2 linked regions of the Homo sapiens genome follow. Each later gene encodes a partner of the first gene's protein in a complex. Each region holds a gene or a part of one and is shown on either strand. Other genes may lie near its edges.

The links. The genes of interacting proteins can lie anywhere in the genome.
Region 2: PPFIA1 (region 1) and PPFIBP1 share a complex: the UniProt entries of both Homo sapiens proteins name them as parts of the cortical microtubule stabilization complex.

What each region holds. Positions count from the first base shown.
Region 1 is NC_000011.10:70,322,548-70,326,296, forward strand, and holds part of PPFIA1 (liprin-alpha-1), read left to right. Parts: intron 1-1,854; coding exon 1,855-1,956; intron 1,957-2,260; exon of another isoform or gene 2,261-2,299; coding exon 2,300-2,464; exon of another isoform or gene 2,465-2,580; intron 2,581-2,952; coding exon 2,953-3,027; intron 3,028-3,714; coding exon 3,715-3,749. UniProt on the Homo sapiens protein: May regulate the disassembly of focal adhesions. May localize receptor-like tyrosine phosphatases type 2A at specific sites on the plasma membrane, possibly regulating their interaction with the extracellular environment and their association with substrates.
Region 2 is NC_000012.12:27,674,121-27,677,869, reverse strand, and holds part of PPFIBP1 (liprin-beta-1), read right to left. Parts: intron 3,679-3,749; coding exon 3,649-3,678; intron 1,443-3,648; coding exon 1,271-1,442; intron 1,164-1,270; coding exon of another isoform or gene 1,096-1,163; exon of another isoform or gene 807-1,095; coding exon 774-806; intron 1-773. UniProt on the Homo sapiens protein: May regulate the disassembly of focal adhesions. Did not bind receptor-like tyrosine phosphatases type 2A.

The sequences.
Region 1 (3,749 bases):
TTACCAGGTTTTAAGCCACATTTGGGTGATCTTCATTAGTATTGTTGGCATTTCTTTGTGTTTGCAAGTATGCACTGAAATACTGAATTGAAGAGCTATTCATGTTCTTTAGCTAATTTTATGGTCTCAGGAGCAGCCTTGTCTCCAAAACTCACTGTATAATATGTTTATAATGTCTATATATATTTAATTGCAATAAAATATACTAAGATAAAACTTGCCAGCTTAAGCAGTTCAGTGAATGCTAGATTCATGTAGTGGAATGTGCTTGTGTCCCCTCCCCACCCCCGCTGTGTTCAGCCTCTGCTGTTACTCCCCAGCCAGGCGCAGCTTTGGATGTGTCCACAGTCACCCTGCTGCTGTCTTCCACTCTCTCTGACCACACTCAGTTCTGAGCCCCACATATGTTTCTGTTGTCTTCAGCAGTGCCCTGGGATAATTAGAAACCAATTCAGTGAAATTGTGGCTAATTCTAAGAAACAGTTTCTGAAGTCATTTTAGGAGATTTGTTCCTACTCTGGAGGGCTCCTGCAGCAAGAATTCTCCAGCTCTCCCTGCTGACTAGCCAGCCGCAGTCCAGGCTGTGCCTCCATTAAACCCACACCTCCAGTTGCCTTCACTAGGACCTCCACTGCTCCTAGGTTTAAAGAGAGTGCCCAGGGTTTAAATGTTAGTGCCCTAACATTTAAAGAGGTTTAAATGTCACCAAACTCGTTTCTCCCTGAATGACGCCCCTGGTCTTATGGCGGCAGCCAGGGCCCTCTCAGCTTGTCACTCCAGCCCTGCAGCTACCGTCTTACAGAGCCAGGGCACAGCTGATCAGGACCCCCAGTATTCTCAGCCTGCCACACTCAAAGTTGAGCCTCCATTCCAGAATGGAGGCTGGACAGAGGTAGGAAGGCCCACTTTGCCCATGACTCCACTAGCCAGGATGCAGCATCAGCACCACGTAGCTGGGGTGGGGTGGAACTGGGGGAGAGGGCACTACATTATCAGCTGCAGCAGTCTGGAACAGAGTCGCTGCCTCACTGACCTGGAAAGGGGAGGCAGGGAGCAGTCTTGGTTCAAATACAACAGACTCTGGCCTTTCTTACTGAATTTTCAGTTGTTTGCTGTGAACCCTTAGAACGATCTCCAGAGTCTCAGAACAGTTGTTTTCTTACAATGTTCACCTGTTTTCCTTGGGAGCAAGCAGGTCAGTGGAGCTTCTTGTGCTGTCATGCTAGAAGTTGATTACCCACAGTAGGGATTCTTGCAGAAGAAATATTACTTTAGAAGAGAGGCTGGGCACGGTGGCTCAAGCCTGTGGTCTCAGCTACTTGGGAGGGTCACTTGAGCTCTGGAGGTCAAAACTGCAGTGAGCCATGGTCACACCATTGCACTCTAGCCTGGGTGACACAATGAGACCCTGTCTCAGAAAGAAAAAGGAAGAAAAGGAGGCTAGGACAGGGGTGGTGGCCTTCTAGGCCATCTTTCCTCTCTCTCCAGCAACTCTAGATCACATGTCTGTGAGTCATTTAAAATGTCTTCATTCAGTTCATGTCAGGATCCTGTTCAGGAAAATGTTTTGGACTTCTCTGGCTGCTGAGAAGGTGGACTTGGATTCCCCTTCTTTCCCTGCTGTCCTTGTCCCAGGGTGCAGGGATAGAGGGAAGTCAGATGGTCTGTCAGTGTTGTGATTTGTTAGGGAATCTGTGTGGTCCATTGATGCCCTCTTTCTCTGGAGGATCACTGAGATCCCTTCCCCATAACTTGTAATGAGGTTGCCTTTGTGTGAAGACTGTGGAGCCTTGATGAAAGGCTTTCTTTAGGGGGTCTTTCTTATTTATTTAATTTTGTTTTGTGATTTTCTAGGAGTTCGCAGCACTTACTAAAGAACTCAATGTATGCAGGGAACAGCTCCTTGAAAGGGAAGAAGAAATTGCTGAACTGAAAGCAGAAAGGAATAACACCAGGGTGAGTGTGACCTTTCTGTTCACTGCCTGCCCCTGGAGCCACTGTCAGGAGGAGGGGCGGTGTGTCAAAACGAAAGGACGACCCACTCTGTCTGGCCTGAAATACTTTTCATACCTTTTCCCACTGAGCAGACTGTGATTAGTCAGCATGATCACACATTAATGGCTTGAAATTTGTGATGAGAATTTATGATATTTTAATACAATTGAGAGGAATTTGTTTTTCTGCGGAATTGAAGGGACTTCATTTTAGTATGAGACTGTAAAGGAGTTATTTGCCCCAGATTCAATCATGAAATTAAAAATGCTGTTTAACAAGTCTTTATTTTGGCCTTTTATTTCAGCTGCTGTTAGAGCATTTGGAATGCCTTGTCTCCAGGCATGAGCGGTCTCTTAGGATGACCGTGGTGAAGAGACAAGCGCAGTCTCCAGCAGGCGTGTCCAGCGAAGTGGAAGTGCTGAAAGCACTGAAGTCCTTATTTGAACACCACAAAGCTCTGGATGAAAAGGTGCCATCAGCCACATAAGTCTTGGTTTGTGCACATGCTGTGTATTAGGCCAGCTTCACAAGTGTTGGTGTAACTTTTGTTTTTTGAAGCTTCTTGAATTCTTGGAAATAACTTCTCTAAGAAGACAGGGTTTTGTAGGTTTAAAAAGTACTAATTGGCTTAAATGTCTTAAAATTACTAATGTATATTGATTTGCTGTTACAAATTGGGTAGTATTAGGTTGTTGCAAAAGTAATTGTGGGCAAAACCTGCAATTACTTTTGCAACAACCTGATATTTCGGGGGAAGATTTATTTTTCTGAAACTTAATTTAGAGCCATTAACAAGTTTTCTTGACAGTAAGATCAATGACAGACATTAATGGTATTTTATTATGTTATATTACACTAATATATACATTAAGTGTATATATTACACTTAACTATATATTAAGAATAAAATAAACAGTATACACACACACACACAAACTCAACCCCTTTTATTTTCAGGTGAGAGAGCGATTACGAGTAGCACTTGAAAGATGTAGTTTGTTAGAAGAGGAATTAGGTGCCACACACAAAGAGGTAAGCTTGAGACTTCATCATGAGTTGAATTGGGGGGGGGTTATTTTTATCCTTTAATTATTAAAAGCAGCATAAGGCCAGACGTGGTGGCTCACACCTGTCATCCCAGCACTTTGGGAGACCGAGGCGGGCGGATCACCTGAGGTCAGGAGTTCCAAGACCAGCCTGACCAACATGGTGAAACCCCATTTCTACTAAAAATACAAAAATTAGCCAGGAGTTGTGGCATGTTCCTTTAGTCCCAGCTGCTCGGGAGGCTGAGACATGAGAATTGCTTGAGCCCAGGAGGTGGAGGTTGCAATGAGCTGAGATTGCACCATTGCACTCCAGCCTGGGTGACAGAGCAAGACTCTGTCTCCAAAAAAAAAAAAAAAAAGTAAAAGAAGTATAAGGACTGTAGTTGTACATATCACATGTTACTTATCTTCCCAATTGAGGACCAGCCTATCTGAGTCATTTTAAGGACTACAAAATGATGGTTACCTAAGGACTCGTCTGGCCAGTGGATAATAAATTCCATCTTCAATGATCTGGTTATTTTCGGATTGGGTAGCATTGCCATATGCTTTCTCTTTTATACTATGTTAAGCAGTTTTTAGTTGTGTTTTTCCAAAAGGAGTTTTGCTATCTTTACTTATTTCTCTTATGTAAGGTATTTTACACTCATATTCAATTTTTTGCTTTCAGCTAATGATTCTTAAAGAACAGAATAATCAGAAAAA
Region 2 (3,749 bases), on another chromosome or scaffold:
ACAGCACCTTTTGGAAAAACCCAAAGGAACTTTCCCAATTCAAATCCTTCAACCACGATGGCTACAGGTGCCCCTGAAAATGCTGCCTAGCTTATCCTCATCTTAAAACTACCATATTTCTCTTTTTTATTTTGAGAACTTTTTTCCCCATTTGTCCCCTGCCTTACAAAGAGGAAAACTGAGCTGCCCCTCTTCTAAAATCACTTTGGGGGGTAACGCCTCAGATATCAAGTAAAGTTGCTTCTGTCATCACTAAATATTATCTCCATCTTCAAAGTAATAAAACGTCAGAAGAATGTTCCCCTAAGAGAAGTAAGCCTAAAACTATAATATTCAATGTCTTCTATAAACCTCCCTATATGGCCAAAAAAATTTCTTTTTGGAGGCTGGGGGAAATGTAAGCATGGAGAACGGACTGCAAGGACCTGGGAGTTAGTGTGTGGTAATATGCACTTCAAGGCTGAAAGAGCTGCAATGTACAATGCCAGGACATTCCTGCCCTGCACTCTGAGGGATGCTGCACACGTCTAGGTCCTCTCAAAGCTATTCACACAGTGAGTGTTACTAGTATTGGTTAAAACAGCATTTAGGCTTGGAAGCAAAGCCTCTACAGAGTCCTTTTTAGCAGAAGGTGGAAAGAACACTCCGGAATAGAGAACTACATTTTCTGATTGCTGTCAGATCGCTTTCTAGAGATCACAGATGCCAAGAGCAGGGATTAGATTGGTTTGGAGCACAGTGCTGGTGAAGGCTGGCATGCAGGGGTACAATACCTAGGGTGGGTGCACTGGCACTTCGTTTACGATCTTCAGATATCCCAACAACGCACACAATCACACGCAGCCCAATGGAGAGAACACAGAGATGACAAAATGAAATGCAGATCAGACTCCTCCTCGCCAAATACACACCGTGGAGGAGAGGCATGCGGCACACAGTGCTTCTGATGTTACACACAGGCTCAACGTCAATGTTAATTTATCCACTATCACAACAGATGGGAAACTCCATGATGAAGTCAAAGGGAATCATGATTTTAGGTCTTTCCGCTAAGTTTATACCACAGGAGAGAGCAGGGTGAGAGTCTATATATCTTCACAACACTAAATTAAATCCACGGAGGCATTTTTTGCTAAATTCCCCTAAGTCATTCACCTTCGTTTCTGAGAAAGAGAAATGAATCAATGAATGAAAGAGTAAGGGAAGGGAAGACACTGCTCTTTTCCTCCTTGTGGAAGAATTAGGGCAAAGGCATTTTGGTCATACGTACCTAAGTTTGGTGCACTTGCTGTTCTCTTGTTACTTTTGATTTTAAAAAAGCCCCGGCCAAAGGAAGATCTGACTTTTCGAGTGCCGAAGGGGTTGTCATCCATGGAGGTGTCCTGCCCTGGGGGCCTGGGAGGAAGGGTCCCAAATGGCCTGCTTTCTGCCGGAGCTCTGTCCTGAGAGGCAAATAAGAATAGTGAAACAGCTCTCAGGTGCAGCATCCTCAGCACATGCCAGGCTAACAGCAAATACTCACTCACGCCACATCCATGAGTTTATTCAAAAGAATAACTGAACTAATACATTGATCACCAATGTCAAATGCCTTATCAGAAGTTGAAAAAAAATCAATTCTGAAAGCTACTTAAGAAACAACAACAAAAGCAACAAGGAAAACATGTTCATCACTAATCTAGAATCGATATGTCTAGGGCTTTAAATATTTAGGATACAAAAATTCTTAAATTTTGTTTGCCTCATTCCTCAAAAGACATGGAGACATTACATAACCAGAATAATAGCAGCAGATTTCTGACTTTTCTAACAATTATGTCACGGATTTAGCTATAATACAGTTCATATTCTTATATTATAACTTTGTCAATAGAAGCCTAATATAATATTAATTATTCTACAAAGCAGGCATTAGTTCAAACTTCTATACCAGCAGTATAAGGAGATTCTATTCCAGTTATTTTAAATATTCTCCTCAAAGAATAAGAAAATGAAGGCACAGTGAGCAACTTTATTTTGAGCTTTTTGGTTCTTTGAATGGGCAATTAGAGCCAGCTGTAACACAGTATATTATTTTAGTATTTATACAAAGATGCTTTGCCTAGATCAATGTCATGAAGTGTTTCCCCTATGTTTTCATCTAGCAGTTTTATAGTTTCTGGTCTTATATGTAAGTTCTTAATCCATCTTGAGTTGATTTTTGTTGATTTGGTGACAGGTGAAGTCCAATTTCATTCTTCTACATATGGATATCTAATTTTCCCAGCACCATTTATTGAAGTGGGTGTCCTTTATACAAAGATACTTTTGTCTTCTTGTTTTCATTTCTCTATTCTTTCCCTCTGCTTCTTTTTTTTGCAGAAGTAGAAATAATTCTTGCCCTCTGCTTCTTTTTTTACAGAAGCAGAGAAAAGGGTGAGGGGATATAGGTATTTTAGGTGGTTATTTTACTCTATATATCTACAGCTCATAGAAACCAAAAGTTTACAGATGGCACAATTTAGTGATATTATCATCCATGGCTCAACAATGACGTCAAAATCATTTAACCATTTATTGAACTGAAAAGACAACAAGGATTTTAATTATAGCTGTCACCACTGGCTGCTTTGTCAATTCTATCCACATATGACTCAGGCACTAAGAGCCAACAGTCAAGAGACTGGATCTGGAGGTAGCCTATCAGGCTGTAATCTTCACAAGGTTAATGACAGAAAATCAGAGGACAGAACAGGCACAGTGGCTCATGCCTGTAATCCCAGTACTTTGAAAGGCAGAGGTGGGAGGATTACTTGAGCTCAGGAGTTCAAGATCAGCCTAGGCAACATGACAAGATCTCATCTGTACTTAAAAAATAAAAAATAAAAAAAAAAACAAACGAAAAAAAAAAACAGCCGAGTATGGTGGTGCACGCCTGTAATCCCAGCTACTTGAAAGGCTGAAGTGGGAAAATCACCTGAGCCCAGGAAATCGAGGCTACAGTGAGTTATAATTGCACCACTGCACTCCAGCCTGGACGACAAAGTGATACCATTTCAAAAAAAAAAAAAAAAAAAAATCAGGGGAAAGAAGAATTGAGCACATGTTGACGACATCTTTAAACATACCAAAATGTTTGCTTTAGATGGGCACCGGGTGTATAATCTAATGGTAATCTAAGAAGGGCTTTTGGGGAGGTCTAAGGAAGCTCAGTTATGGTCATTAGGAACATTAAGTAGCATGACTGAGAGACTATGGTTTTGTTTTTTAATAACTTACTGAAGTGAAATTCATAACAAAATTAACAATTTTAAAGTGCACAATTCAGTGGCATTTAGTATGTTACGATGTTGTGCAACCACCACCTCTACCTGCTTCCAAAACATTTCCATCATTCGAAAGCAAAACCCCTTACCCTTAAACAGCTTCTCCCCATTTTTCCCACCTCTTACCACTGGTAACCACCGATCTGCATTCTATTTCTATAGATTTATCTGTTCTGGATGTTTCACATAAACGGAATCATATAATATGTGAACTTTGTGTCTGGCTTCATTTAGCATAATGTTCTAGAGGTTCTGAAAGTTTTTATCTACTGGAGACATTTAAGCAATTTACATGTAATGGAAGTAGAAATATTTTTGCATTGTAATTTGGACAAAAAGTTACCTCTGAAGTCTTCTGAATAGTTTCCTTTTCCTGTTCAAAGCAATAACAATATTTAAGGTTGTTAGGGAAATCCTTTGTATAATTCTGAATTTGTCACATAC